Linked DNA regions of Homo sapiens. The protein of the gene in region 1 interacts with the protein of each later gene in a pairwise test. Each region holds a gene or a part of one and is shown on either strand. Other genes may lie near its edges.

Evidence for each region.
Region 2: the proteins of SKAP2 (region 1) and FRK interact in a protein complementation assay, tested with the Homo sapiens proteins (one study listed by BioGRID).

Annotation. Positions count from the first base shown.
Region 1 is NC_000007.14:26,668,991-26,672,910, reverse strand, and holds part of SKAP2 (src kinase-associated phosphoprotein 2), read left to right. Parts: intron 1-2,718; coding exon 2,719-2,811; 3' UTR 2,812-2,820; intron 2,821-3,254; 3' UTR 3,255-3,920. UniProt on the Homo sapiens protein: May be involved in B-cell and macrophage adhesion processes. In B-cells, may act by coupling the B-cell receptor (BCR) to integrin activation. May play a role in src signaling pathway.
Region 2 is NC_000006.12:115,935,261-115,939,180, reverse strand, and holds part of FRK (tyrosine-protein kinase FRK), read left to right. Parts: 3' UTR 1-3,920. UniProt on the Homo sapiens protein: Non-receptor tyrosine-protein kinase that negatively regulates cell proliferation.

The DNA.
Region 1 (3,920 bases):
GAAACCTTGTACAATATTGAATGTTCAGGCCAAAGTTTAGAATACTGTACTCCAAGAAGCATTTTCATTCCAATTTATAGGCTGCAAATGGTTTAATTGGGATTCATGTTGCTCAGGAGGCTCATACAGAGAATAGTAATGATAAAAGTAAAAAGCTCCTGTATTTGCAGTCTTGTCAACACTCTAATGGCTGCAGTGTAAATCCATAAATTTGCCTCCTGTATTTTTACCTCACTATATTTGATCATAATGCATTAATTTCAAACAGGAATATAATTTGCAATTCTTTACAAATATAAGGTAATATTCTGGTTTTTAGTTTTACCTTTTCTGATTTAAATCTGATATTTTAGAGTATTTTTATCAAGTGTATGTTTCCTATGTTTTTCAATTATTTTAAATTAAGTGAAGCATTTAAGATTATTTTAGTCTAAACCTTTTTTCTCCCTAGAGTATAACTTTTAAGGGATTTGTTTATAGTTGATTAAGCTCCTCCCTGCTGTTTACCACTATGCTTTCTAGTTAATAAATCTTCCTGTTCTACCATAGCACAGAATTCTCTCAACTGTGAAGTCTGCCCTTGTTGATGTGATTTCTTGGGAACTAATTTCTTAAATTTGGGTGTGAGTAACTTTTTGAAAATGATAACATGCCTTTAGTTGATAGCATAGACTATGACCAAAGTAGAATATTATAAAGTAATAACTTTCTGTCTTGTAATTTGAATCTAAGCATTGACCCCCAGATTGAGGGCCATTCTCTGGAAGCAAGTTTATGCCAATAATATGTCTTCTCACTGAATGTTTTCTATGTCTGTCACTGGGGAGCAGGGGGCTAGTTCCTTTTCTCATTCCAAATAATCAGTTTCAAAAATCTTATATTGGCATTGAATAAGAGCTTTAACACTCAGACCTACCCTGTTAATTATCCACTTTGAAATCTTACAGTAGTCTGTGGAACGTTAAGTACGTGTGTTTTTTTAAGCATTAGGCTTTAATTGTATTCATTGCCTTAAAAATAGAAAAGGGTAGTTTTATTAGGTACCTATTAAGATATAATCGTTGCTAATCATGACTTTCAGTAAGTTAGTATTTTCTTCTGATAAATATGTCCTACATAGATTATAGCCATCATTGGGTTCTGGGCATCAGAGTATCCTCGTTCCTTATACAGCTTCGTCCACTAAGTTCACACTATCAATGAACTTTAAAAGTTTAAAACTTAAAATCTTGAGTTTACTGCCTCACAAGCCAGAGCTGTGCCCTCAATAGAATAACAATAGCAGGAGTGGTCTTTTCTCCCCTCTCCCCCTCCACTTTGTTCTTCCAATAAACCTAATCCTGATACTGCCCACTGTTTGAAAAAGTGCCTATGGATTTTATCCTATAATCTCTCTATTGATAGACTACATATCAATACATACACGCTAATGTAATGCTACATTTGTATTAAAGAATTGCATAATTTTCCTTTCTGATGGTCAATAGCATACTAATCAATACAAATATTAAGTCTGTACTAGTATTAACATTCCCTCCCCACATATAACTCAATATACATATGCACATTTATCTATGACTCAGATGCTGGAAAATCATAACCTATTAAATTACTTTTGGGATTGATTTTGAAAATTTATCTTATATGAAAAATTAAATTTGAGCACTACAATGCTTGTGAAGAGTATTGCTTTTGGAAGATATTATTCTTGAAACTTGAAATTCATTTTACTTTGTTTGTATCTCACTACACATAAATAAATTTGAGATAAAAATACATTAGTCAATCTGGCAGACATATGAGACCGGTTATGGAGTATTCACAATGCCTAAAGCAGTGGTGTATCTGTCAAAGGAGGAAAAAGTGGGAGAAAAGGAGGTATAGGTTTGTTTATCTCAAGTTGCAAAGTAAATGCAAAAGTGACTCATCGACCACTCTGTTTTAGAGGTAGATTAATATTTTGCCTTTATACCTTGAGATACTTTTATTTCCTATTGATCTTCCACTATAAGGGTGACTCTAACAGCACCTTTAAATTCCTTCTACCTATTCTTTATCTAAGGTAGTTTATGGTCAATAATAAAGGAATAATAAATGCCTTAGGGAAACTATTTTAAAGGAACCTATTTGTGAATTATTTTTTAAGCAGTTTTTTGGTATTATTAGTGTTTCCGTATTCTCTAATTTATCTGTTAAAGTGTGTATATTAGATTTTCTTAAGAAGGGGCACACATCTATCAACATTCTAAATCATTTTAGGTCATATAAGTTTAAGAAATAAGTAGTTTATTGTAAAAAAAATTATTTTATCCTTGCTAGATGATAAGCTTCTTGAAGGCAAATATAATAGCTTAAGGATCCTGGCTTTAACCTTCTATAGCCTCTTACACATGAAAGGTATCCCCAGGCTCTGTGGAGAGAGAGAGTGTCCCCGAGAGAAGGCTTCCTGAGGTAGTTTCATTTTCTAGGTTTTCATCATGAGTGATTGTTTCTGTGTTCTGTGCCCAATAATAAACAGGCTTTGTGTTATACCTTAATTTAAATCGTTGCCTAACAGCATTTTAAAGTGTCCAGAAACAAAAAGATGAAAATGTTTACATTTGCAGCTCAAGCTCTTTTAACTTTATAAATAGAAATAACATTTCTAAGAAGTTGCATACAAACGACATTGTACTTACACCAGTCTAAAGGTTAATATTGCATATTGTTTTCAATTAGGAATACAATAGATATGGCTGGTGGGTAGGAGAAATGAAGGGAGCCATTGGCTTGGTGCCTAAAGCCTACATAATGGAGATGTATGATATTTGAGAGTCCTGGGTAAGTACATTTTAATCCAATATTCTGTAATAGCTCATATGTTCTCTTGGTCTCTTCGTTATGAGTCTTTGCCTTTTTAAAAGTCTTTAGAGTTTTCTGATAACACAAAGATTGTGCCCCGAAATCTTTTTTGTTTTGTTTGATCTGGTTTAATTTTTAAAATAAGAATTTTTAAAATAAAAACTTTATGGAATTTACTTTGGAAATGAATAGATTATTTAGAGAAAGTTCTTTTGATAGTAACCAGCTGTTTTCCCAAACTTCCTCCTTTTCAGTAAAATACCACTTTTTATGGCCTTTCTGAAGAGTTGAATTGACAAAATGTTGAGTAAAAATACATTTTTCCTTGGCTAAAAGTGTAATTTTTTTAAGCAGGAAAAATCAAGTTTCAGCTGAATCAAAAATTAAAATGCAGCTTTCCCTTTCTCCTGCAGAAAAGGAAAATTCTTCTGCTTGTCTGCAAATGCTTTGGATTTAGAAGCGTCATGAAAGCACGAGTGACAGCTCCTAACCTCTCCTTGTTTTATTAAACATTACTTATCTTTGACTGTTATTTTATGCAGTCGCTCATTAAAATATTCCTCTGATGTGAAATTAAATGAAGGATATTAATGTAAATTAGATGCAACCAGTTAAGTTATACCTGTTGCTATTTTGCAAAGAAATAATTATAGTTTTTATTTACCCATTTGATTTGTGTGAAGAATTCATCACTATTTTATACGTAACATATAGTCTACTATAGCATAGTATGCTACTATTGCTACTTCTGGTGTGATTTGTAATGTTTCTTAATCATTGGACATCAATTATTTTTAGAGAGTAATGTATAATTTCATAGCATTTTAAATTTAGTGTATCATGCGAGTTTTTTTTGGTAGATGCTGAAGAATGTGGTTGCTAAACAAAGAATGCTAAAGAATGTTCAAACTTTATAGATAACTTTATTGTTATTATTTATTTTCACACATTTAATTCCTATTAAGTACAGCCGCAAGAAAGAAAAAATGATGAAGTTGCAAATGGCAGTGTGCTGTCACCTGCAACAGAAGTGCGTACCAGAAGTATGACTCATGCAAAGCATTTTACCGTACAAATAT
Region 2 (3,920 bases), on another chromosome or scaffold:
TGAACCAGCCTTGTGTCTCAGGGATGAAGCCAACTTGATCGTGGTGGATAAGCTTTTTGATGTGCTGCTGCACTCAGTTTGCCAGTATTTTATTGAGGATTTTTGCATGGATGTTCGTCAGGGATACTGGCCTGAAATTTTCTCTCTTTTTTTTTTTTTGTTGTGTCTCTGCCAGGTTTTGGTTTCAGGATGATGCTGGCCTCATAAAATGAGTTAGGGAGGAGTCCCTCTTTTCCTATTGTTTGGAATAGTTTCAGAAAGAATAGTACTAGCTTTGTACCTCTTTGTACCTCTGGTAGAATTCGGCTGTGAATCTATCTGGTCCTGGACTTTTTTTGGTTGGTAGGCTATTAATTACTGCCTCAATTTCAGAACTTGTTATTGGTCTATTTAGGGATTCATCTTCTTCCTGGTTTAGACTTGGGAGGGTGTATGTTTGCAGGAATTTACCCATTTCTTCTAGATTTTCTAGTTTATTTGCTTAGAGGTATTTATAGTAATCTCTGATGGTATTTTGTATTTCTGTGGGATCAGTGGTGATCTCCGCTTTATCATTTTTTATTGTGTCTATTTGATTCTGCTCTCTTTTCTTCTTTATTAGTCTGGCTAGCATTCTATTTTGTTGATCTTTTCAAAAAATCAGATCCTGGATTCATTGATTTTTTGAAAGGTTTTTCATGTCTCTATCACCTTCAGTTCTGTTCTGATCTTAGTTATTTCTTGTCTTCTGCTAGCTTTTGAATTTGTTTGCTCTTGCTTCTCTAGTACTTTTAATTGTGATATTAGGGTATAGATTTTAGTTCTTTCCTGATTCCTCTTGTGGGCAGTTGGTGCTATAAATTTCCCTCTACACACTGCTTTAAATGTGTCCCAGAGATTCTGGTATGTTGTGTTTTTGTTCTCATTGGTTTCAATGAACAACTTTATTTCTACCTTAATTTTATTATTTACCCAGTAGTCATTCAGGAGCAGGTTGTTCAGTTTCCAAGTAGTTGTTAGGTTTTCTGTCAGTTTTAATCCTGAGTTCTAATTTGATTGCACTGTGGTCTTAGAGACTGTTTGTTATGACTTCCGTTCTTTTGCATTTGCTGAGGAGTGTTTTACTTCCAATTATGTGATCACTTTTAGAATAAGTGCGATGAGGTGCTGAGAAGAATGTATATTCTGTTGATTTGGGGTAGAGAATTCTGTAGATGTCTGTTAGGTCCACTTGGTCCAGAGCTGAGTTCAAGTTCTGAATATCTTTGTTAATTTTCTGTCTCATTTATCTGTCTAATATTGACAGCAGGCTGTTAAAATTTCCCACTATTATTGTGTGGGAGTCTAAGTCTCTTTGTAGTTCTCTAAGAACTTGCTTTATGAATCTGGGTGCTTCTGTATTGGGTGTATATATATTTAGGATAGTTAGCTATTCTTGTTGCATTGATCTGTTTACCATTATGTAATGCCCTTCTTTGTCTCTTTTGATCTTTGTTGATTTAAAGTCTGTTTTATCAGAGACTAGGATTGCAACCCCTGCTTTTTTTTTCTGCTTTCCGTTTGCTTCGTAAATATTCCTCCATCCCTTTATCTTGAGCCTGTGTGTCTCTTTGCATGTGAGATGGGTCTCCTGAATACAGCACACTGATGGGTCTTGAGTCTTTATCCAATTTGCCATTCTGTCTTTTACTTGGGGCATTCAGCCTGTTTACATTTAAGGTTAGTATTGTTATGTGTGAATTTGATTCTGTCATATGATGCTAGCTGGTTATTTTGCCCGAAAGTTGATGCAGGTTCTTCGTATCCTCGATGATCTTTACAATTTGGTATGTTTTTGCAGTGGCTGGTATTGATTGTTCCTCTCTATGTTTAGTGCTTCCTTCAGGAGCTCTTTTAGGGCAGGCCTGGTGGTAACAAAATCTCTCAGCATTTGCTTGTCTGTAAAGGATTTTATTTCTCCTTCGCTTATGAAACTGAGTTTGGTTGGATATGAAATTCTGGGTTGAAAATTCTTTTCTTTAAGAATGTTGAATATTGGCCCCTACTCTATTCTGGCTTGTAAGGTGTCTGCAGAGAGATCCTCTGTTAGTCTGATGGGCTTCCCTTTGTGGCTAACCTGACCTTTCTCTCTGGCTGCCCTTAACATTTTTTCCTTCATTTCAACCTTGGTGAATATGACGATTATATGTCTTGGGGTTGCTCTGCTCGAGGAGTATCTTTGTGGCGTTCTCTGTATTTCCTTAATTTGAATGTTGACCTGTCTTGCTAGGTTGGGGATGTTCTCCTGGATAATATCCTGAGGAGTGTTTTCCAACTTGGTTCCATTCTCCCCGTCACTTTCAGGTACACCAATCAAACGTAGACTTGGTGTTTTCACATAATCCCATATTTCTTGGAGGCTTTGTTAGTTCCTTTTCACTCTTTTTTCTCTAATCTTGTCTTCTCCTTTATTTCATTAAGTTGATCTTCAATCTTTGATATCCTTTCTTGTGCTTTATCGACTTGGCTATTGATAATTGTGTATGCTTCATGAAGTTCTCATGCTGTATTTTTCAGCTCCATCAGGTCATTTATGTGCTTCTCTATACTTGTTATTCTAGTTAGCAATTCCTCTAATCTTTTTACAGTGTTCTTAACTTCCTTGCATTGGGTTAGAACATGCTCCTTTAGCTTGGAGGAGTTTGTTATTACCCACCTTCTGAGGCCTACTTCTATCCATCCGTCAAACTCATTCTCCATCCAGTTTTATTCCCTTGCTGGCAAGGAGTTGTGATCCTTTGGAGGAGAAGAGGCATTCTGTTTTTTTGAATTTTCAGCTGTTTTGCGCTGGTTTCTCCTCATCTTCCTGGATTTATCTACTTTTGGTCTTTGATCCTGCTGATGTTCGGATGGGGTCTCTGAGTGGACATACTATTCCTTTCTGTTTGTTAGTTTTCCTTCTAAGAGTTAGTGCCCTCTGCTGCAGGTCTGCTGGAGTTTGCTGGAGGTCCACTCCAGATGCTGTTTGCCTTGGTGTCACGAGTGGAGGCTGCAGAACAGCAAAGATTGCTGCCTGTTCTTTCCTCTGGAAGCTTCGTCCCAGAGGGGCACCCACTGGATGCCAGCCAGAGCTCTCCTGTATGAGGTGTCTGTTGGCCCCTACTGGGAGATATCTCCCAATCAGGATAAACGAGGGTCAGGGACCCACTTGAGGAGGCAGTCTGACTCTTACCAGAGCTCGAGCACTGTGCTGGGAAATCCACTACTCTCTTCAGAGCTGTCCGGCAGAGATATTTAAGTCTGCTGAAGCTGCTCCCATATCCACCCCTTCCCACAGGTGCTCTGTCCCAGGGAGATGGGGTTTTATCTATTAGTCCCTGACTGCCTTTTTTTTAGAGTTGCCCTGCCCAGAGAGGAGGAATCTAGAGAGGCAGTCTGGCCAGAGTGGCCTTGCTGAGCTGAGGTGGTGGGCTCTACCCAATTCGAACTCCCAGGCAGCTTTGTTTAGACTGTGAGGGTAAAATGCCTACTCAAGCTTCAGCAATGGCAGACGGCCCTCCTCCCTCCAAGCTCGAGTGTCCCAGGTCGACCTCAGACTGCTGTGCTTGCAATGAGGATTTCAAGCCAGTGAATCTTAGCTTGCTGGGCTCCGTGGGGGTGGGACCCGCCAAGCTAGACCACTTGGCTCCCTGGCTTCAGCCCCCCTTCCAGGGGAGTGAATGGTTCTGCCTTGCTGGCATTCCAGGCACCACTGGGGTATGGAAAATAAAACTCCTGCAGCTAGTTCAGTGTCTGCCCAAATGGCTGCCCAGTTTTGTGCTTGACACCCAGGGCCCCAGTGGCGTAGGCACCGGAGGGAATCTCCTGGTCTGCAGGTTTCAAAGACCATGGGAAAAGTGCAGTATCTGGGCTGGAGTGCACCGTTCCTCAGGTACAGTCCCTCATGGCTTCCCTTGGGTAGA